Regions from separate parts of the Homo sapiens genome. Here all the other regions are linked to region 3. The links come from fine-mapping of genetic effects on gene expression. A gene starts in region 3. Each other region holds a variant in brackets. All regions are shown on one strand. Distances are from middle to middle. Region 1 overlaps LRIG1 (leucine rich repeats and immunoglobulin like domains 1). Region 2 overlaps LRIG1 (leucine rich repeats and immunoglobulin like domains 1). Region 3 holds the start of LRIG1 (leucine rich repeats and immunoglobulin like domains 1).

What was found.
Region 1: its variant is fine-mapped to the expression of LRIG1 in whole blood (INTERVAL, PIP 0.95).
Region 2: its variant is fine-mapped to the expression of LRIG1 in whole blood (TOPMed, PIP above 0.99).

Annotation. Positions count from the first base shown.
Region 1 is chr3:66,381,539-66,389,279 of GRCh38, forward strand. It overlaps LRIG1 (leucine rich repeats and immunoglobulin like domains 1), which reads right to left. Exons shown (of 19, transcript NM_015541.3): 13 at 4,443-4,763; 14 at 2,453-2,734; 15 at 1,444-1,863; 16 at 735-860; 17 at 1-93. Among named protein-coding and RNA genes, the nearest start is that of LRIG1, 120 kb to the right of the region's middle. RefSeq lists enhancers at 1,659-2,158, 4,605-4,704, 5,165-5,334, 5,345-5,424, 5,455-5,514 and 1 more. The variant T/G (reference allele first, on the strand shown) is at 4,220.
Region 2 is chr3:66,390,401-66,398,141 of GRCh38, forward strand. LRIG1 (leucine rich repeats and immunoglobulin like domains 1) reads right to left here. Exons shown (of 19, transcript NM_015541.3): 11 at 7,712-7,741; 12 at 3,640-3,803. Among named protein-coding and RNA genes, the nearest start is that of LRIG1, 110 kb to the right of the region's middle. RefSeq lists an enhancer at 3,208-3,257. The variant T/C (reference allele first, on the strand shown) is at 3,506.
Region 3 is chr3:66,497,852-66,505,592 of GRCh38, forward strand. It overlaps LRIG1 (leucine rich repeats and immunoglobulin like domains 1), which reads right to left and starts at 3,171. Exons shown (of 19, transcript NM_015541.3): 1 at 2,339-3,171. The coding sequence starts at 2,556. RefSeq lists enhancers at 2,267-2,767, 2,768-3,268 and silencers at 2,371-2,580, 2,601-2,680, 2,721-2,860, 2,881-3,540.

The DNA of each region.
Region 1 (7,741 bases), 120 kb before region 3:
GATACGCAGACCCAGCACAGAGCTTTGGCTGCCTGCAGGCAACGCTGTGAGTGTCGGGCTCTGGAAAGTGGCTTGCATCTCTTGGACACACACCTGCAAGTGGATTCCAACACGATTAGAAACTCTGGGCTTGGTATTTCACAGTAAGCCTTATGAAAGGAATGAGCAAGGCCGCTAGAACAGTCATTTTTTTTAAAAAGTTCTTCAGAGCGGTGGGGCTGCTGGTCTGGCAAGCAGCGTGTTTTCTGCTACTACTTCCCAGCAGGCAGGCTGGCCTTGTGAAATGAGCAGCTGTCTCAGGGTGAGCCTCTACAGTCTCAGGCAAGTGCTCAGAGGCCCCCACCGTTGGAAGTACCTCATCCTGGTGACAGCTTTCCAGTGTAAGACTGGATCACAGAGCAGACCTGGGCACGTTCCCCATGTAAGGAATGGGTTGGCTGGGTTCATGCACCGTAATGCCCTTTCCAGCTGCTACTCCAGGCAAGCCTACTTTATCCTGCCAGGGAGATGCTAAGCCCAATCCAGTGGCTTCCTGAGGGGACAGGACTTTAAAACCTTGCAGAACTCATGAAGACTGGGTCCAAAATAGCAGCCCTTAGTCATACCGCCTTCTACTTCACCAAGTTTGCCCCATCTAATGCCAGGTACCTGCCCTGTAAAGACCTGGAGGCCACCTCCAGCACCCAGAGACACAGTCACAGCAGAGCTCTGCTTCACAGTTACTGAGGCCTTACCATTGCTCTCAATGTGCCCATTGGCCTGAGGGCCACCCTCGGTCCTGACCACGGTTTCTTGTCGGTCAGAAAGGGTCCCCTGAGAAGAGAGGTAGCTTGGAACATCTGGTGGCACGACGGTTTCATCTGCAAGGAGACAGAACAAATAGAACACCAGGGTCTCAGTGACAAGAAATGCAGACACACGTTCACTGTCAAGCTCAGAAAGGGGATCCTCCCAGTGACGACCATCAGCGCTGTGCAGAGAGATGACATGGAGTCCATGTACGCAACAGGCCCTCCCAGAGCCTGCTCAGCTTTACTCTACACCCAGCGTGAAGAGCGCAGCCAGCAGATGCCAGACGCCACAAGAAGTGGAGACCAGTGATGGAAAGCCGGGGCTCACAGAAGTACCGCACTGTTTCAGGAACAACCTACTACGTGGCAGCAGGGCCTGTGCATAGGCGGCCTCTGAGTTAGCAAGGAGAGGGAAAACTGCATGGTGCGTCAGTTACTTGTATTTGTGAGTATTCCTGTTTAAGGTTAAATTTGAGAGTATTCCTGTTTAAGGTTAAGTTCCTCAAAGTTAAAATGGAATTAGTGGGACTAAACCCTCAGGAGTTCTGAACACAGTGCAATTCTTTCAAAAGCCACTGGAACCCGGCCCAGTTCCCCAGCATCACTGCCATTCCTCCCTCCTTGAAAGTCAGCTCCGCTGGCAGGGCCTGACCTGTGTTGGTGACACTGTACTCTTCACTCTTCTTCCTGGTCTGGTAGATGATGCACACCCAGACCAGTGACGTCAGGACGATGCTGCTCACGACAGCAATGGTGAAGATGCCTACCGTGGTCCCATCCTTCCTGCAGCCTGCTGCGGGCAGGACGCTCAGCTGGCTGTGAGCTCGCTCCGTGCCCAGGGTGTTGGACATCTCACAGGTATATCGGCCCGCATCCTCTGCCACCACGTTCTGAACCACCAGGAGCTGGTTGTCAGGGGTCAAGTGGTGCCGCTCAGTGAGGCTCAGCGGGCGGTCCCCCTTGAACCAGGTGATGCGGGGCGGAGGGTTCCCCGTGGCTTTGCATTGGAGGGCCACTGTTTCTCCCACAGATACCACACGGTCTTCCAAGGGGACCACCAAGGATGGGGTCTCTACAAGAGAGCAACAGAGATCTTAGTCATTCTCAGGGCCTCCGTTGCTCTGGCTCTGCCCGGTCTTCTGGACAACGGACAATCCAACATATCAATGAGATGCATCTGAGATTCTGTCTCAGAGTGGCAAGCTTTGGAGAAGACCCTTCAACTCATTGACTGAGTCATCTCCATGCTGGGAGTGGCTTCCACAGGGACAGTGAACCTCTGCTGACAAAAGCCCCTGCTATTCCCTAACTGTCCTGTGTCAGGCCTGTGTCCTTATTCTTGACCAAGCCCACATCCATCCTGTCCAATTCTTAAAATGTTCTGTAGCTCTTGACCAAGCCCACATCCATCCTGTCCAATTCTTAAAATGTTCTGTAGCTAAACCCTATGAAGACTCTTAATTCACCAGCTATCATTTCTTTTAAAGAGATAGAAACACTTGTTTAAGAAAAATTAACTCAACTCAAAAAGCAGCCCCAAATTTCAAACAGGGTCGAAAGGCCCACAACGCATACCACCCCTGGCCACACAGAGCATTTGAGAGTCTCTCTCTCTCGCTCACACACACACACACACACACACAGTAGAGCAATAGGCAAACCTAGGACAGTCAGGGTGGCATTAGCTGAAATAGAACCGGCTGAGTTCTGAGCAGTACAGCTGTAAACCCCTGCGTCATCTATTTTCACATCAGTGATGAAAAACACGTCGTCATCCGGCATGACATGCATGCGTCGCTCACGGGCAGCGGGGAAATCCGTGCCTCCATCCTTCTGCCAGGCAATCTGAGGGTTTGGGTGACCTGTGGCAGCACATTCGAGGCGGGCCATGGTGGTGGTCCGGATGGTTATGTCGTGGGGCGTTTTGGTGAATGATGGCAACACTGGAAAACATACGTATACAGGGTCGGGTTACGGGACAGCTAGATGCAAAACCAGGAAGTCCTCTGGCAAACACCTACCTGTCACTGTGCCCAGTGCCAGTTCACTTCTTTTCTCCCAATGTCTGCCCAGGACCACTCCTGCCACCTGTGAATCAGGAACCCCCAGCTTCTCCCACCACAGTTGGAACACTTCCATCCCATCAGCCTTGCATTGTACACCCTAGGCTGGCTATAGTCCCTTCAAAGCAAAGGCTTTTACTCTACATGGCAGTGCCTATACGGGAGTTGCAGGGGGTGCCCATCCACACTAGGTAGGCCTGATGCTTGCCTGCTTTACCCACCAAGAGAGAGGCTGTGGAGATGGAATTACAGAGGGAAGGTGGGCATGCCTCCACCTTGGGAGAGCAATGGGATGGCTCATCCGTTTGGATGGGTGTTCATGGGATGAATGGGATGGCTCATCCATTTGGATGGTTGTTCACCCAGGCTGTTCCTGCCCACTGCCGTATACCCAGGCAGGAAGCATTCAGCTTGCTAGCTTGCTCAGCCTAAAGATCGATGTCCTGACAGAGTGGGACGCATCCAGCCACGTGTCAGGCACCACCAGAGTTCCTGTCAACGTCAATTTTGGGGAGAGTCTAACAAACAGCTGAGTCTTTCGGAAGCTGTGAGGACTTGGAATAAGCCAAGACAACCCCACTACAGTGTGGTAAAGAAGGTGTTTCGCTGTGATCTGTGGGGGCTTAAAGAGCAAAGCAGATCCACCATTCTGATGATTCTCAAGCCAATTCTTTTTAACTAGAGAGTTAGTAATCAGGATAACCCCATTAGGTTACTGGGGTGGGACAGTAAACTCTTCAAGCTATCTACTCCCCACCCCCCTCCTCCAAACACACAATAACACATGGTCCCCTTGACAAGCTCCAAGGCTGGTTAATGAGTAAAAACCTGTCAACTGCCAGGACACTGTGTCTTTCAGGCCAGGGCTCACACCAGCCTTGCACTCCACAGTCTCTGGAGCAGTAGCTAGCCTCTGACTCCAATGCTGTGCCATCTACTCAAAGAACAGCAGCTTCCCCAGGCTAAGGGGTATTTGGAATTTGGAAGCCAGATCTCTTGGCTTATAGAGGATAAGAACTGGACAAAACAAGGCTTAGCTCTCCACAATTTGACTTAATAACTAGTTTTTGTTTTGTTTTTGAGACAGTCTCACTTTGACACCCAGGCTGGAATGCAGTGGAGTGATCTCGGCTCACTGCAACGTCCACCTCCTGGGTTCAAGCAATTCTTGTGCCTCAGCCTCCCAAGTAGCTGGGATTACAGGCATGTGCCACCACACCTGGCTAATTTTTGTATTTTTAGTAGAGACGGGGTTTCACTATGTTGGCCACACTAGTCTCGAACTCCTGGCTTCAAGTGATCTGCCCACCTCAGTCTCCCAACTGCTGGGATTACAGGCATGAGCCACAGCACCCGGCCAATAAC[T/G]AGATTTTTAAAACTCACCAAAAACAAGTAACTCATTGTGAATAACCCTTGAAATCTGCAAAACTTGCTCTGGGGCAAACCCAGGCAACAATAGGATTTAACAGTGCCCCACAGAAGCATGTGTGTGTCCTGTCTCAGTCATCTCTACATGGAAAGCTGAAAGGGCAATCAGGAGTGTGCTTTGTAGGATTCTGGTACTATAACAAAGATGGTGTTTCCATACCATTCACGGTGAGCCTGGCCTTATGTGAATAGGTGGAGCCAAAGTGGTTGGTGATGACACATTGGTAGCGGCCCTCGTGCCCGAAAGTGACCTGACGGAGGTGCAGGATGGTGGTGTACTCCATCACTTCCCCGTCCTGCGCGTGGACGTGGACAAAGTTCTCCATGTCTGCATTGGTCAGGACTTCATTGTCTTTCTTCCAGGCAAAGGTCATGGGGGAGCTGCTGCTGCTGGCTGCTGAGCATGTAAACCGGATGTCCTTGCCCACCATAGCCATGGTGGTTTCTGGCTGGGTGATGATCTGTGGCTTCAGGAAGTCATCTGGGGAGAGAAGGGTCAACTGTAAAGCGCTGGGTTCTTGGTACACAGAGGAACCAGCTGCTGTTCATGCTAACAGAAACTGACACAGACACCAAGCAGGAACCAGAGCTTGAGGTCCCTGTGCATCCTCAGCCCCACCAACCAGATGCCGTAAGAGTTGCACCATGGACATCTGACCTCATCTAATTAGAAGTCTGTGAGTACTGATCACCTTTATGATCACACTCCTTGATTAGAAATTAACCCACCACTTCTCAGTTCTCAAACCAGCCAGCCGGCAGTTTCCTTAAGACAACTGGCTCTGCCTGCTGACTTTCACACAAAACAGTCAGGCACCACTGGTCATGACTGCAGAGATCTTACCCACAAACCTTACTCCAAAAGGAGGGGGTGTAAAACACTTCCAAAATGTCAGAATAAGGACCTCCAAAAATCTGCACCTCCATTAAAACAAGGAAAACACCTGGAAAAATGGTCAAAAGCAACTTTTTCAGAATTCTGGAAAACCAAAGGCTTACAACAATCCATGGATTGTTGATTCAAGCAAATAGCAACATCTCAGAAATGTGAGCTTTGTGGTATTTTAACTTATCCAAAGCCCCATTCTTCCCTCCCCAGCTCCATGGTAGCCTTGAAACCCAGCAGCCTAGCAACCACTCAAGGGTCAGAATGGGCTCCCCAAAAGCCCCATCCTCAGAACTGACACCATGTGGCCTATCTGGCAGCAACACGGAAAGCCCCATTCACAGGATTTGCATTGATTTGCCCTGATCTAGTTTGCCGAGCAGGAGAAGCCCTAGCCCCAGGGCACATGACTACAACAATCAGTAGCCACTGTTCAACAGCGCAGCTGTCTGAGGGGACAATACCCATGGGGCAAACAAGCAGCTGGCCAAAAAACTATAAAGGAAAATGTGGGGAATACAGTGTTAATGGTGGGCTTTGAAAAGGTCCAATACATTCCTGGGGATCTAGACAGCCACATGCAGGTGCAAGGCCATGTGCACACCCAGGAAAGACGTGAGGGGGTCCTCATTTGTCACCTGTGGCTGAGCATGACTGTCTACACAAATAGGAAGTGATGGCACACCCCAACACAAACACACAAGCCGTCGGTAAAGGATAGGAGACAGTGGTTGTGGTGACTTCTCTGTCCAACCATTAGCTAACCACTAAACTAAACAAGCAGGGACTTAAGGGGACGGACTTTATATAGCCTTTGTCCAGGAAAAGTCACTAGGCAAGCTGTAACAATAAACAGCAACAGCAGCAAATCCTGGGGGAGGAGAAAGGGAATATCCAATTTCCAGAGTTGCCACATTATTTTATTTTAAATGCCCAATTTTCAACAAAATATTATGAAACACTCAAACAGGAAAAAAAGCAGTCAACAGAAACTGTCTCTGAGGGAGCCCAGACTTAGATTCACTAAATAAACTTTTTAAATCGGCAATTATAGGCATATTCAAACACCTCAAGGAAACCATGTCTTAAAAAAAATATCGAAGGATAGTGGCCAGGTGGGGTGGCTCACGCCTATAATCCCAGCACTTTGGGAGGCTGAGGCAGGAGGATCATGAGGTCAGGAGATCAAGACCATCCTGGCTAACATGGGGAAACCCTGTCTCTACTAAAAATACAAAAAAAAAAAAAAAATTAGCCGGGTGTGGTGGCAGGTGCCTGTAGTCCCAGCTACTAGGGAGGCCGAGGCAGGAGAATGGCATGAACCCAGGAGGCGGAGCTTGCAGTGAGCCAAGATCACGCCACTGCCCTCCAGCCTGGGTGACAGAGCAAGACTCTGTCTCAAAAAAAAAAAAAAAAAAAAAAAAAAGGATAAAGTATGAGAAAATTTTATAGCAATAAAGAGAAATTATAGATATGAACCAAGTAGAAATTTTGAAACTTAGAAGTACAATAACTGAAATGAAAAATTCACTAGAGGGGCTTGACAGCAGAACTGAGCTGGCAGAAGGAGGGGGCAGGGAACTTGAGACAGTCAACTGAGATTATGTAGTCTGAGAAACAAAGAAAAAAGAATGAGGTAAAATGAAAAGAACCACAGAGACTTGTGGGACAGCATCAAGCACAACAACATACAAATCATGGGAGTCCAAGAAGGAGAAGAAAGAAAAAGGAAGAGAAAAAGTATCTGCAAAACAATGGCCCCAAATTTGATGAAAAATGTGCAGCCACACATCCAAGAATCTTAATGAACTCCAAGTAGAGTAAATTCAAAGATCCAAACGCAGATTCATCATAGTCAAGCTGTCAGGTGCCAAAGACAAAGAATCTTGAAAACGCAAAAGAGGAGCAACTCATCACATTCAAGGGATCTTCATTATTATTAACGGCTGATTTCTTACCAGAACCCACAGAGAACAGAAGGCAGTAGGAAGATATTCAAATTACTGAAAGAAAAACGTTCAACTATGAATTCTATGTATTAAAAAACCTATCCTTCAAAAATGAAGGGGAAATTAAAACATTCCGATGTTTTTATTTTAAACACACACAGAGCAAGTTGACTGTTATCAGGCCTGCCCCACAAGAAATCCAGGAGAGTATTTAGTATGGCTGAAATGAAAGGACATCATATAGCAACTCCAATCCACACCAAGAAATAAAAAATCCCATTAAAGGTAACTACACAGGTAATACAACACACAGGATACGTGTATTTTTGTAACTCGCGTCTCCTGATTTAAAAGACAACTACATAAACCAGTAATTATAAGGCTGTGTTGATGGGCTTAATGAAAATGTAATGTGTACGACAACAGTAACACAAAGGAATAAAACTGGATCTTAATAGGAACATAATTTTTGCATATTACTGAAGTTAATTTCATTATTTATTTGAACTAGATTGTTGTAAGATGTTAATTTTAATTCCTATGGGCAAAACTAAGAAAATAACTAAAAAATACCCGTGTATTTAAAAAACAGGGAATTAAAATAGTACAACAGAAAATATCTTT
Region 2 (7,741 bases), 110 kb before region 3:
CTTTAACAGTAGTTGAAGATGTGTACACTGAAAGTGACAAAACATGACTGAAAGAAATTTTTAAGAAGCTAAGAAAAAAGGGTGGACAGCCCATCTTCATGGATTGGGAAGACTTAATACTGTTAAGATGGCAATACTTCTCACATTAGTCTATAGATTCAATGCAACCCACATCCCACTTTCCTTTACTGCAGAAATTGACAAGCTGATCCAAAAAATTGTAAGGAAATGGCAAGGGATCCATAATAGACAAAACAATTTTGAAAAAGAATAAAATCAAAGGGCTTTGTAACACTAAGGTTATAAAACTCTTAGAAGAAAATAAAGGAGGAAATCTTTGTGACCTTATCTCAGGCAAATAGTTTCTTTGATATGACATCAAAAGCATACGTAATAAAAGAAAAAATAGAGATATTGAACTTCACCAAAATTAAAAACTTTTGCATTTCAACTATCAAGAAAATGAAAAATAGCCCTCCCTCAGACTGGGAGAAAATATTGGCACAACATGTATCTTATGAAGGTCTCATATCCAGAATACATAAAGAACTTTACAACTAAACATTGAAAAGACAAATGAATACTGGCAAATGATTTAAATAGCTGTTTTTCCAAAGAAGATATATATATATATGTATGTCCAATAAGCAGGTGAAAACATGCCTAACATCATTAATCATTAGGGAAGTGCAAATCAAAACCACCATGAGACTCTATTTTACACTCACGAGTACATCCAAAATAAAAAAGACAGTTAATAACACATGCTAGCAAAAATGGGGAGAAATTGGAATTCTCATGCATTGGTGATGGGCATGTAAAATCATGAAGCCACTCTGGAAAACAGTTTGGCAGTCCCTCAAAAAAGCTGAGCACAGAGTTAGCGTATGACCCAGCAATTCCATTCCTAGGTTTGTACCCAAGAGAATCACACAAAACCCTGTATATGAATTTTCACAGCAGCATTATTCATAATAGCCAAAAAGTGGGGACAATCTAATGTCCATCATCTGATAAACGGATAAATAAAATGTAAACCCATTTATTCAGCCATGAAAAACAGGAATGAAGTACTGATACATGCTTAAAAATTATGCTAAGTGAGAAAAGCCAGTTACAAGAGACCGTATACTGTATGGTTCCATTTATATTAAATGCCCAGAATAGGCAAATGATGGAGACACAATGAGATTAGTGCTATCAAGGGCCTGGGGGCAGAGAATAGGGAGTGATTACTAATGGTATGGGGATCCTTCTAGTGGTGATAAAAATGTTCTAAAATTAGATAATAGTGATGGTTACACAGTTGTGACTATTATAACAACCATCAATTTATATATTTTAAAGGGGTAAATTTTTATGATATATAAATTATATTTCTTTTTAAAAGCAGCTTTATTGAGAATACTTCATCTACACTACAACTCACTCATCTAAAGTATACAATTCAATGGTTTTTAGTATACTCACCAATATGGGCAACCATCACTACAGTCAATTTTACAACATTTTCATCACTTCAAAAAGAAATGCTGTACATTTTAGCTATTACCCCTCTCTTTCCATCCCTCCCCATCCTTAAACTACTACTAACCTAATCTCTACCTCCACAGATTTCCCCATTCTGGACATTTCTATGAATGGAATCATATAATCTAATGGTCTTTTGTGGCTGACTTCTTCCACTTAGCATGACATTGTCAAAGTTCATTCATGTTGCAGGACTACTGATTGCTTTCACAGCCTAATGAATATTCCATTGTATGGCTATACCACCTTTTGTTTATCCAGTCATCCACTGATACCTGGGTTGTGCCCATATTTTGGCCATTATGAATAATGCTGCTATGAACATTCATGAAGAAGTTTCTGTGTGAACATATACATTCATTTCTCTTAGGTATACACCCAAGAGTGGAACTGCCAGGTCATGTCGTAACTGGATGTTGAACTGAGGAACTGCCGAGACTGTTTTCCAAAGTGGCTGCCCCAGTTTACACTCCCACCAGCAGTGTAGGAGGGTTCTCCCTATCCTCAGCAACACTTGTTATTATCTGAGTTTTGGATTCTAGCTGTCCTAGTGGATGTGGAGTGCTTATGTTTCCGTTTTTAAAAAAGGAGTGGGAGACTCCCATAAAGCCTGAAACCTTGATCTTCTGCCAAGTGTTTTCATGATTCCCATTAACACCTGACGTTTTTAGAGGGGGGGAAGCTTGAGCTAAAATGTGGGGGTGGGGATGACAGATGTGAAATAAACAACTCTTGCAATCCAGAATATGCCAGGGCCACAGGCTGGGGGCTAGGTGAACTTACCAAAGTCCTACCTGGCTCACCCAGAGGGAAAGCCTGCCCTATGGCAGGAAAGGGGAGGGAGCGATGGAAAGCTTTATTTGAGGGAGGTCTATAAACAATTTAAGGGTCAAGGACTTGATGACAATGGGCCAATGAACAATGGATTATACAGCCATTTTGTGCCTGGATAATGGAGCTGTGCGAGCATTAGATTCCACACAGAAGGCTCCATAAGACAGATCGGTATGAAAAGTCAGTTTGGAGAGCTGCTGCCATGTTCGCAGTGGGTTTAAGACGTGTCCCTGGTCTGGATCCAGAGGAAGTTCAGCAGGCCTGTTCTCAAAAGTGGTGATGGTGAAGGTAGGGGTGGATGCATGGAGAGGGCACACACATCTTGCCTCCAGCAGGCACACTGGCTACTCCAGCAGGCACAATGGCTATTGCTATGGCCAGAAAGTAGGAGACAGAAGTGGCCCACAAGGGTTGCCATATGGATGGGTGAGTTCCTGGTTAGGATCCTCACAGCAGGGATCTCAAGGCTCAAGGGAGACCAGTGAGCACAAAAGGCAGGAGGGACTTAACACCTGCCCAGCAGTTCCAGTCAGGCCTGGGAATCCCACTCTTGCTCCTGCTTAGAGCAAGCAAACAGGAAAAACTCAAAATTCATCTCATTTTTTGACCATGTCTTCCTGACCGTGAGCCTGTGTCAGTCCTGTCTGAGCTAGCCTGCGTGTGTGTTTTCAGCTGTTCAGCATTTTCTGTGCTCTCTGCAACCAAACTTGGATCCCGACTCCCAGTCAAAAAGATGGCAAGAGCTACGCTCCAGGAATCAGAAGGCAAAAAGAATGTAAAGCTGCAAGTGCAGATTTCAGTGGTTTGGAGAAACAGCAAGAGTACAAGTCAACATCAAGGAATTATTTTTACTACAGCAACTGTTCTCCTGAGACTTGTTCTTCCTGTATTTAACCTTTCATTCTTGGGGTCGGAAAGAAACACACATTAAAACGCCAGCCTCGTACGCGGAGTACATTCGCAGCTAAACCCGGGCACCAGAGCCCTTCTGAAACAACAGAACTATCTTCCTGTAACTGATTATTCTGATTTGTAACTGAACCAACTTATACTCCCTTCTGATTAAATGCATGTCCTCCAAGAACCACATAATGAGGCAACTCTACGGTAAATACTGTGTGTGGTTTCAGCAAGAAATAAA[T/C]TGCATCCAGCAGCTGATCTGTAACCACGGGCTGGGGTTTACTCTGATCACAGGAATTACTCCCATAATGAAGAGTACCTCCTGGCTTCCTTGTCCTTCATGAAGGAGAGAAAAAGTTACAAAGACAGTCTTACCGCACACGAAACTCTCTGGTGGCACAGAGAAAATGCTCTGACCCTTCAGTGATTCTGGGTGGGCACAGGTGGCTGTCACAAAGGCCTGCAGCATCCTGCCAATTAGCCACGGGGGCAGCCACTTCAGCTGGCAGTCACACAGGAAGCTGTCGCTGCTGATATGGCTGAAAGAAACACAACAGTGGATGCTTCAGGTGCAGCCGCAAAGGAGGGACACTCCCTTCACACACACAATGATCAGTCGCCTCCAATCAGCTTCTCAAGTGAACATCAGCAAGCTGGAAGGGGGAAATGGTTTTTCTCACACTTCCTCTCCAATTTCCCAGGGCAGTGCATATAACCCACCTGGAGATTTTGAAAAAATGCAGTTGCTGATTGGGTGGGTCAGGAGTGGAACCCACGACTCTGCTAACAAGTTCACGTATCATGCTGGGGCTGCTGACCCAAGGACCGCAACTGGAGCAGCAGCAACGTGGAGCTTATCCATGCCATGTTCTGGGACAGACACTGTTCCTGTGTGACCCTGGGCTGCCTTCTGACCTCTCCTGACCTCTGATACATCCAACAGTGCTATGCTGCCACCATCCCCCCTCTGGTTTTTCCCACTTTCCTGATAAACTACTTGGAGCTTCCAAACTCGGCCTGAGACTTTGATCCAAATTCTGCAACAAGTTCCGAGGAGGGCTCTTTTGCCTCATGGCTGTTCCTTTTCCATTTGGCAAAGCTGCATGTTTTCTTACTTCCAAATGTAATAAGCCCCGTCACTGTGCCACCCTCTTGTTTGTGCCTTGATCTTTGCACCAGTATTCTTCAGGGGGCCGGCAGAATTCGGCTCTGCTCCCTAAATAGTGCTTGTTAGTTAATTGCCACTGCCCAGGGAGCATGAGAATGCACAACTTTAGCTTTGTGGGGCTCCAACCAAAACAGAGAATATTTTCTTTTTCATTTCTCAGCAACTAAGGATAAGCTTTTTAAACAGAAATCGGAATCGCCATCTCAGCGGACATTCCTTCCTGAGGAGTCACTTGAAGATAAGTCAACCAAGAGTCTAGCTGCCTTGTTCCTGGAAGACCTCAGAGCTGTGAGCTAAAGAATGATGGCTGGCCCACGATAAGGGAAGACTGGGAAAGAGAGCACACAGGCTTCCCTGCAATACACTGTCTCTGGTACATGGTGACAAACAGGAGGCACAGGTATGCGCAGAAATTCCAAAAACATCATGCAGGCCAAGAGCACGACTTTGGCTGCCTTCTCCACCCACCACTGTCCTCAGACATCAACAAAGCAACCAAATGGACTGGCCTTCCATTTTCTTCTGTTTCTCTCCAGATTTCTAATGAGCAGAGAAACTGTCACAGCAAGGAAGAATGAAGTGTAAGCAGATGACCCAAGGCTAAATTAAGTAAAATCCACTCTTCCTCATGTTCCCCATCACCCCTAGATGAGTTGGGCATCTTATTAAAATAATTATAATTTTGGAAAGTGCTTTTCCAAAAACAGAAATAACTTATCTCAAGGCCATTATAACTGGGATGCTGGCCCATATTAGATCTTAAAATCAGCATGAGAGTTTGCATTTTTATTTCACGGGCAGGTAGCGTTCTGCTGAGAGCCATCTGGAGGGCTGTCCTACTGTGGAGTCACTGCAGGTGGCGGAAGGGCTGTAACGGCCATCCCTGAGGAAATGGTCAATTCCCATGCAGTGTTTGGGGAGGGCAGCTCCCAGGAGTGCACCCTGCATGGGGGTCAGGGCTGGCTGCGCCAGGCATGGGGGGAACTCAGCCTGGATGGAGAACTCTCCGCTGTCAGAAGCACCTCCAGCTCCCCAGCAAGAGGGCACTTCCGTGCAGTCAGGCAGAACAGCCTGGGCACTGTTCACGAAAGCCTAGGAGAGAAGGCTGGGCCATCCCTGTGCGACGTTAAGCATTTGTGCAGGACACAAGGACATATTCCATTTGAACCACAGGAACAAACGGGAAAACAAATTTGACATTTATCTTTGATCAGACACATGTAGAAAGGGCTAAGCCTCATCCTACACACGCCCTGGACGTGTGGGGCTAACGCCTTTGAGGATTTCCTACTTCTTCCACCATGAAACCCACCTCAGACAGGAGGCCAGACTCCAGGAAGACAGTGGGTACTCAGGGTGGAGACAGCATGTTCCTAAACAGCAAGTTAGGACTGAGAGGATACATGGGGAGGGCCTGGGGCCAGGCAGTAGCGAGGATTCCAACCCCTAGGCTCTGCAGGCTCCTGCCGCCCTTCTTCCACCCGTGGAGAGCACAGCGCCATCGGCTCTACTGCCTTCTGCTGCCATCCCAGGGCTTTGCTGGCTCACATGGTGCATTTTCACGATTCCAACTCAAAGTGTGTTTCTAATCATCACTTGTGGAAATTTACCCAGAGGATGACTAAGTGCACAGTACAACCTGACTTGATCTGATGGAGAAAAAGACGACCAAGTGGAATTAACCATTTCTCTCATCTGAGGACTGGGCACAGGGCCGGCTCCAGCGAGGTATATGCAGCAACGATGGGAAACCCAGGCAGGAGACCGAGGCTGAGCCTCCAGAACCATGCAGAAGCACGCTGGAGGTCCAAGCTTCTGGAAGGGTCCAGTTCCTCCCAACTTCCCAAGGAAAATCTTATCCTCCTCCCTCCTTCTCTCAAAATACCTTCTTCCCGTTTAAATTGAATCAGGTATTTTTCAGTCCTGACATCATATCTGAAAGTTTCAAAGACAGAAAAGGTGAAAGAATTCCACAGTGAATGCTCCTGTGCCCCACCGCTTGTCTTCTACAACCAATGTTTCATTCCACTTGCTTTACTGCGAGTCCACCTCTGAGTCCAGCCTTCCCTTCCACGGTGGTCTGGAATCATCTCCTCCCCTGCTCTGGAAGGAGAGCCATGGAATCCTTTCTGTATGTTCCGTCTCACCCGACAGATGGAGGCAGAGCTGCTGAGGCTGGAAGAGGGAAGGCCCTGGGCACGGAGCAGCTGTCTGCAGAGCCCTGAGCTCCATGAACCCGTCACAGACACCCGCTCCAAGATCCAACCCTTGCAAGGACGGTATCTATTCAGCAGGCCTGAGGCTCACAGCATGCTGAACATCACAGGGCAAGTGCCCAGGCCACCTTCCCTCCTCACTCAGTCTGGTGTCACCCGGCCCGCTTCAGTTCCCAGCTATGGGGAATGCACCTCATTTCCCCAGTCCCAGCCTCCCTGCCCCAACTGAGGGTTCATCAAGAGTGGCCTCGGGGAATGGGGATGAGGTCAGGGCACAAAGATGACTGTCCTGTGGCATCTGCCATTCTGTCAGCACTTCTAGGAACCAAAAGTTACCCCTTCAGGGAACTGATATCATGGCTAGAACTTACTGGCTGTAGAATCAGATTCATGTCTAGCTAAAAAAAAAAAAAAAAAACCAGAAAGGAAAACTTGGGTGTTACACCTGAGGACCCAGACTAGCTCCCCTGCCAGAGTAGGATACAGGGAAGCTTTTCCAACCTTGTCACCCAAGAGCCCACAGTCCAAGTCCACAGTGGCAGCACCACCACCTGTGAACCGTGCCCAGAAAGCTTGGAAATGGTATGGGCAGACACCACTGCACCCCTAAGCATCCCATCCCCTCCAGAGCTCTGCCTTGCTCACAGCCCACCAGGCTCTGAAGTAGACCCTCTCAACACAGGCCTTTATCGTAAGCAAGCCCAAAAGATGAAAACTTGGCCCTGACATAATTGAAGGGGTGATTATCCACTTTATAGAGGAGAGTATATTTCACATTGCCTAGAATAGTGGTTAGCAAGCTTCAGCCTGCGGCCCGACTGCCTGCTTCTGTCAATGTGACTTTATGGGCACATAGCCACACCCACCTGCTTATGTAATGTCTATGGCTGCTTTCTGCTGCAATGATGCAATCAAGTAGTCATGACAGAGACTCTGTGGCCCACAAAATCCAAAATATGTACCATGTGAACTTTTAACAAGTGAGCATAATGCAATTGCAGAAGTTTCTTACTCTGAAAGTCTCCACTACCATTAATCAGACCCAGGGAATCCAGATACTTACAGCTCTTTAAGATTCTTCATCTTCACAAAG
Region 3 (7,741 bases):
GGCTTAGAGCGTGTAAACTTGGTGAAACTACAAGATATTTCATTATATCATATACAGACACTTTCTCCCCTAAAGTCTTGCTGAATCTTAGCCAGGAATACAAACCATATAAATACTCTTATGGAAATTCCAGAATAAGACTCACGGAGACTAATGATTTAAATTCAGAAGTCTGAAGTCTAGAAAAAAAGAACACATTTGCTTGATTTGTCCTTAATCAGAAATAAGAAAACTTCACAAATATTTTTCAAAGGATAGCCATTTTGCACTGCATACTGTGTTGCTACATACTAACCAGAAATCATGCTGCTCATATCTTAAAATCGAATCAGTCAACACCATAATCAGTATACTAAAGTCTACTGATGCTCAAAATACCCACTTTGGTATTTCTCGATCATCAAATGTGTGAGTAAAAGAGAAGGACTTCAATTTTGAAGGTATTTATGCCATGTGAAATGTCACTCCTAGGCAACAGAAAGCCTAAAGAAATAACCAGTATGTTTTGCTCCAAAAATTAAAGGGCAAGGCAAAGTGGATCTTGTGACCATAGGAAAGTGCAAATAAGAGGACACCCTGCCCTCTCTGGGAAGTTACTTCTGTGGAACTAAGTGCTTTCCCCACAATGCCACTGACACATGGCATTGGGAGTCACTCTTCCAACAGGTGAACACTTAAGAAGTTAATCTGATTTTGCCCACATGATTCTATTTAAAAAAAAAAAAAAAAACTACCGTATGTAAGGGAAAAATCACAATACCCCAGACTAAATAAGAGACTACCTAAGGACAATACTGGGCTCTATCTCCCAGTACTTCACAAAAGCTCTGCCTCCACCCTACGACCACTGATTTTCACTAACTCAGTAAATTCCACAGAAGAAGTAGATATTGAAAACCTAACTGTAACTAAAGGGTTCCTGGTTGTCTTCAGAACTCTGTAGTACTTGTTCATGGAGCAGTGTCTCGGGCCAAGTTAAAGATTCGTGCCCCATTTTGAGAGGTACAGGATCTTTACATTTAAAAGGAATTAACTTTTCTTCCCTTCACGGTAGTCAGAACACAGGCCACATTTTCTTCGATCAAGCCACAGGTGCTGGTTACAACTTGTGACACCAGTTTTCTCTTTTTAAAACAGCCATAGTCATGCCTAAGGTTACTGCTGTGCCTTTCCTATGTTCTAGGAAAAATGTCCAATTATTCAACCGAAATGCGGACTATTTAAGCTAGGCCTTTTCTGGAAAGGTACTAATGGTTCTACAGAGATGCTAATTACCCATAACTGAACGGGATTTGACTCATGCACCAGATTTGTTAGAAGTAAAAGAAGACTATTCTATTCTACCATGTTTACACAGAAGTCTAATGCCTTTTTTTTCCTGTCAAATCTCCTGTAAGAAGTGTCCCACTAAGTCCTAATAAGCCCACATCCTGACAGCACAGAAAAGAACCTCTTTCGGGTGAAACAAACAGCTTAAATCAGCCAAGCCCCTGGCACCCTCTCCTGAAGCAGCACTTCTCCAAAACTCATTTGCACCATTTATGGAGGAGAGAGTCTTGAGGGTGGGCCCCACCCCACTGGATCATCAAGCCCAATGGGGCCCCAGGGAACACACAGGAAGGGTCTGGAACACAGTTCCGTAAAATGCCAAACAGGCGTAAAAGGACAAACTCCCAGCACTCACAGGTCGCCAGGAACTGTCAAAGCCCTCTAACTCAGGGGTCCTCGGGGGAAGACTGCCTTCTGCCCCGCACAGAGAGGCAAGTCAGGCCACCACGGTCTTCGGGGATCAGGAGACGGCTACACACACTATCAACTAATAAATAATGTAAACGAAAGACTGGACCCAACAGTCACCTTCATTCATTACCCACTGGAAGACCAAGGAGCTCAGACACCAAATAGTTGGATTACAGGAGAGGAAAAGGAAACGCACCCACATACCCCCACAGACTTCTTCACACTCTTCTCCAGACGTTTCCCACCCACCCACCCGCAAACACACTCAGCTCCAGACTCCCACTCACTCACCCCCAGATGGCCCGCACGACGCGTGCTGGCTAACCCCCAAATCTCTACGACCCACGCTCGCTCGTCTCCAGACCCCACGAGGCACGCTCTTCTTCTCCAGGCTCTCTCGCACGCCTACTCCCCCGGACCTCCACGCAGAATCTCCCTTCCGCCACTCCAACCTGACAGTCTTCCAACACGCACAAGCACGCACAACTCCACACACACAACCCAGTCCGCACCCCCTCCCTGAGTACGAACCCCCGCCGCTCCATCCCCAAGTGACAGAGCCCCGGGGCGCAGAGAGGGCGGAAAGGGCGGCACTCACAGGCTCCGCGTCCAGGAGGGCAGGTCCCCGGGCAACGCAGCCAGCCCGCGCCCACCGCAGTCCAGCGAGTCCCCAGCGCAAGTGCAGGCGGCCGCGCAGGGCGCCCGCGGGCCGGCCGCGGCGGTCACCGGCTCCAGCCGAAGCAAAAGCAGCCAGAGAAGGAGAAGGCAAGGCGAGCGGCGCGGGGCCCCGAGCCCTCCCCGGACCGGCCGCGCCATCTTGTCTGGAGCGCGCTGCGAACTCCGGGCGCGGGGACTGTGAGGACCCGAACGGCCGCAGACGCGGGCGGGCCCGCGGGGCGCTCCGCTCGGCTCTAGACTCCGCACCGGGGCATGGCCCCCGCCCCAAGTTCTCTCTGCGGCCGCGGCTCCGGCACTCAGCGTGCCCCCGGTGCCCGGGCCGCTCCGGAGCACCCGGCGGGGGCCGCAAACCCCGCGCCCATCCGGGCCGGCCGGCCCGCCCGCGCTAGCTGCGAACTCCGCCGATTCGGGCAAGGTGTACCCAGCCTGCGCTCTTCGTCCGCCCGGGGCACGCCGAGTGCCGCTACCGACACCGGCCGAGGGCAGTGCTGCCGCTGCGCCTGGAAGACAGGCGTTCAGCCCCGCAGCCCGAGCTCGGTGCCGGCAGGCATCTTCCTCTGGGCTCGGAGCGCAAAGCCGTAGACCTCGGGCTGGACGGCGCGGCCGGCCCCGCGCTGGGAGGCCCCAGTGCGCCTCGCTGTCCCCACGCCGCGGCCAGAGAGCGCGCGCGCGCGCGCAGCCTCGGGTTCCGCACGGCTCCTCCGCGCAGCAAGAGTCCCGCCGACCTCGCAGCCGAACAATCAGCCGCTTGCTGTTCGCCTCCCCGCGGCCCAGCCCCGGCCGGTCCCCCAAGCCCCGCCCCCGGCCGCTCGCCCGCACACACCCCCTAGGCTCCGCGCTCCGCGGCCGCCTGCTGGCCCACGTTGGATGCTTTGCAACAGCGCCCCGCCACGCCTCCCCGCCTGCTGCTCATTGGCTGCCGGAGTCCACCGTGGCCAGCCTCGAGGGCCATTGGAGCGCTCGCTGTGATCCCGCCCCTCCCGCTTCACCGGCTACCCCGCCCCCACACTCTTTTCCCACCCAAGGTGTGAAGGGCGGGAGACTGGGAGGAGAAAGGGAGGGACGGCCCCCGCCTCTTAAAGGAGACACGCAGGTTGTTGTTGGAGAACGGGAACGCGGGCTGGGGAAAGGAGGCGTGAAGATACGCCCTCTGCGTCAAGAAGGGGAGAGAAAGTTAAGAGGGTAAAACGCCCCCGTTTTGGGGCTGTCTGGCCCCAAGGCTTTTTACGTCCTCCTCAGGCTGCAAGCAGGACTGCAGATTAGAAGCAAACCCGCGTCCGTTTTCCAGGTTCCTTCCAAAAGCGAAGACACAGGTTTAAAACTTAACACATTTCTTCCTGACTGGGACATCCTTGGTTATTTCATTAGGCGTGGTCCCCTTCCTCCTCGAGCAGCCTGGAGCATCTGCTCCTGACTTGTTCTTCACGTCCTAAATCCAGCAATATGTCCTTGATTACTAAAATGAATGTGTGCTGCAGAAACCTAGTCTCAAAGGTGCACCCTCGGCCAGGAGTGGTGGCTCACGCCTGTAATCCCAGCAGTTTGGCAGGCCAAGGCGGGCGGATCACCTGAGGTCAGGAATTCGAGACCAGCCTGGCCAACATGGTAAAACCCCGTCTGTACTAAAAATGAAAAATAAAAAAATTAGCCAGGTGTGGTGGTGCACACCTGTAATACCAGCTACGGGAGGCTGGGACAGGAGAGCTGCTTGAACCCCGGAGGCGGAGGCTGCAATGAGCAGAGACTTGTCACTGAATTGTCACTGAATTCCAGCCTGGGTGACAGAGCGAAACTCCGTCTCAAAAAAAAAAAAAAGTGCACTCTCCTTCCCAGCTAGTGAGTTGAAGGGTACTTCTAGAAATGCTGCAGCCTTTGATAAAGGGGTTGCTTTGTTGTTGTCATTGGGTTTTTGTTTTAATCAGAGTCTTTTTAAGATAATTTTCAAGAAGCCATTGTGTATTCGTAAGAGACAGAGTTAAAGGAGAAATAATAGTTAACAAAGCTTCTAACTTTTGCTCTTAAAGATCAGACCATAGTAGTAGTGTGTTACGATAGTACGTGGTAACATTAAGCAGACATACACACATTGAGAAAAAAAGAAAAAGATTACCACTGTAACATATAGCTGCCCTCTGGGCGTTTTGGTTTGCTAGTGTCTCATATCCCTTCCCAAGAGTATGCAAATTACTAACATAACTGCGCACATTGTCAGGAAGATTAAGCAGGTCAAGTCTGTTGAAAAACATTTGCTCCAGAACATTAAATCTGAGTTGTGTTTTATGGAAGTGGGGTGGGGTGGGAGGTAAAGAGGAGAAGTTGAACCTTAGGGAAAAAAGGCAAAAAAAAAAAAAAAATTAAAGGGTTTATTCCATTTTCGACACAATCTAAGAGGTTTGCTTTAATTGAGATGCACTAAATGTGTTAAACTTTCCCTCAGCCATAAGATCACCTCTTTTCTTTAGCCAAAATGTGATCTTCCTATCCCTTCCTCCCCTTTTTCCTTCTTCCCCTTCTGAATTCATTGCGCCTCATTTTTTTCTTGTTTAATTTTGCATGATCTCAGCAGTGATGCCCAAAGCAGTGCTCAAATATGTGGGTAAATCAATTCAAATCTAATTCCCAAGAAATATTATCAGAAAAATGCTGCACCTGACCCATCCCACCCAGAGCTTTAACCAGCTTTTATGTTTCATATGTAATCCAAATAAACATACACCTTCCATCTGGACGAGAAGAAATATGTCCTTTTGTTCTATCCCTTTTGGTAAATATAATAATAATAAGCAGTGGGAATGGAATTAAAAAGACCCTAAATTTATGAAGTCCTCTCAGTCAGTGTTTAAGTTTTACACAAAGAACACAAAACAGTAATTTGATGCAGAATACCCACAGCCGTTTCCTGAAATGAAACTGTCAGATCCTCCCTGTCCCCACCCCACAATAAAACAGCATATGCAGCAAAAAATGAATTGAACTGATTGAACTACTTGAGATGCTGACCTAAAATTATCTTTCAGGTTTGTCTCATTTCTAGTACTATAAAAGTGGGTAATTCTTGTAAAATGTTTTTTCAAATGTGTATGGGTGTACTTGTGAGATGCCTTTTTGGAATCTTAGTTTTCTGGAGGATAGAATTTAAGAATCTGCAAGGTGAGGGAGTGCCCACAAATCTAAAGCATCCCTTGTGGTCTGGTTACCATGCAGCCAGAGAAAAGGATTCCAAAGCCGGGGCACACTTGGGGGGACAGGGCGCCTAAGCCTTGGCAGTTCCTCTCGTCTACAGCAAAGCATGAAGTCATGTCTGCTCCCCATACCATGTATGGAAGTTTGCCCACATACTAGCAACCTGCTTGTGATTGCAATGAGAGTGTGAACTTGGAGAGCAGTGATATCCAGCTCAGGGGGGAATTCATCTGCAGCCACCACCTAAGATGAAGGAGATCTCAACAACAACAACAGCAAATGTCTAAGGGAATCTATGTCTCTGCTCATAAAAGTGCAAGTCTTGGTCCATTCAGCACAGAGCAACAGTTGATTTGGGTGCTGTAGGTCCTTATTTTCCTCACACTGCAACTTTGATCTTTCTAAATGCTTATTCCTTAAATGAGTCATCCGGGGATTTTAGATTTTCCAGTTCATTTTCATCTACCCCAGGGATAGCATGGAATCAAACCCCAGTGAGAATCTCTGCAGGTCTCTCTTGACTCCAGAAGCCCTAGCAGTTAATCATCCTAAGTTAATCATGCTTGAGAGAGGAACCCAAAATCTAAATAGCCTGAAATCTATTGGGGAGAGAAGCAAATAACAAAATAACAAGAAAGAAGGTTAACCATAGGAATTTTTTTTTTTAACACAACTTCCTGGGGACTGAATTTGTGCCAGTTTGCTATAGTTCTAGGTGGTGGTCTTTAGTGGTTTTAAAGAATGCTGAGATTCAGAGGGGCTTTCTTAATGTTAGGTGAGATTTTACACTGTGTTCAATACATTAAAAAAGCACCAGGTCACCATTCAGGAGAGCTGGGTTCCAGCCAGGCCTTGTTATGGGTGAAACCTTTGACCAGTCATTTTCTGTCTTGGAGCCTCAGTTTTCTCAAATAGAAAACAAGGGGCTGGGCACGGTGGCTCACGCCTGTGATCCCAGCACTTTGGGAGGCCGAGGTGGGGGGATCACCTGAGATCAGGAGTTCAAGACCAGCCTGGCCAACATGGTGAAACCTCATCTCTACTAAAAATACAAAAATTAGCCGGGTATGGTGGCACACACCTATAGTCCCAGCTACTTGGGAGGCTAAGGCAGGAGAATCGCTTGAACCCGGGAGGCGGAGGTTGCAGTGAGTCGAGATCGCACCATTGCACTCCAGCCTGGGTGACAAGAGCAAAACTCCATCTCAAAAAAAATATATATATAAAAGAAAAATAGAAAACAAGGATAATGGTACTTGACCTGGGTGCTGAGTGAGTAAAGAAGGATCATTTTGATAAAGGACCAAAGGGGCATTATAAACTGTTTACATCTCATTGTTTTCAAGGTGTTATTGATTTGTTAACTCTGAAAAACTGAGAGCCCATATGTATAATGTAGATGGAAAATCTTAGCAGGTTGTTTCAGCAGGAAAGTTTCTTGTCCAGGAATGTGACAAAGGGTTAATAATTAGCTATGAAACCCCTGAAGACTTGCAGGGTGATGACAGCCCTGCTTTGAGCCTGTTTTCTATCTCTCTTCCAAGGAAAATAAAACTGTGTACTCATTAACTCCTTCGTCGCAATAATCTTGTCAAGGAGATGGATGGGTGGAGAAGGTAAGAGAGGAGGCTAATGAGTCTGGGAATAGAATATAAAAAGAGAAAGATTTTGAGATCTCCCCATCCCCCATTCCAACATTTGCCTTTGGTGGAGGTAGTTTTCTTGTGCAATCTCTGGCTATTGGAATATTGGTTAATGCCCAGACAGTGCCAAGCTGCAGCTGCTGCAGTTCCACAGCAAGAATGGTTGTTGCCTGCAGCTCAGCTGTGACCCTTCACAGGATCTGCCCTCCTCCACAGAGCACCATCGACAGGGGCCAAAAACCTTTAGAGTCCACTTTCTAACACAAACTAGAACCTTGACACTTGTCCTTGCCTTGTGAATGTGAAATGTTTACTGGTTCACTGAAAGGATGAAAAAAAATATGTCAAAGGTATGAGCATTTCATAATTCTGAGATTGAGATTCTGGAGTAATGGTCATTGTAGGAGGCAGTCCCTTACCTCTGACGGTGATGATGATGGGATGGACTAATTACATCATCACCAGAGACCGCACCTCTCACTCCCAATCTGCTGCCT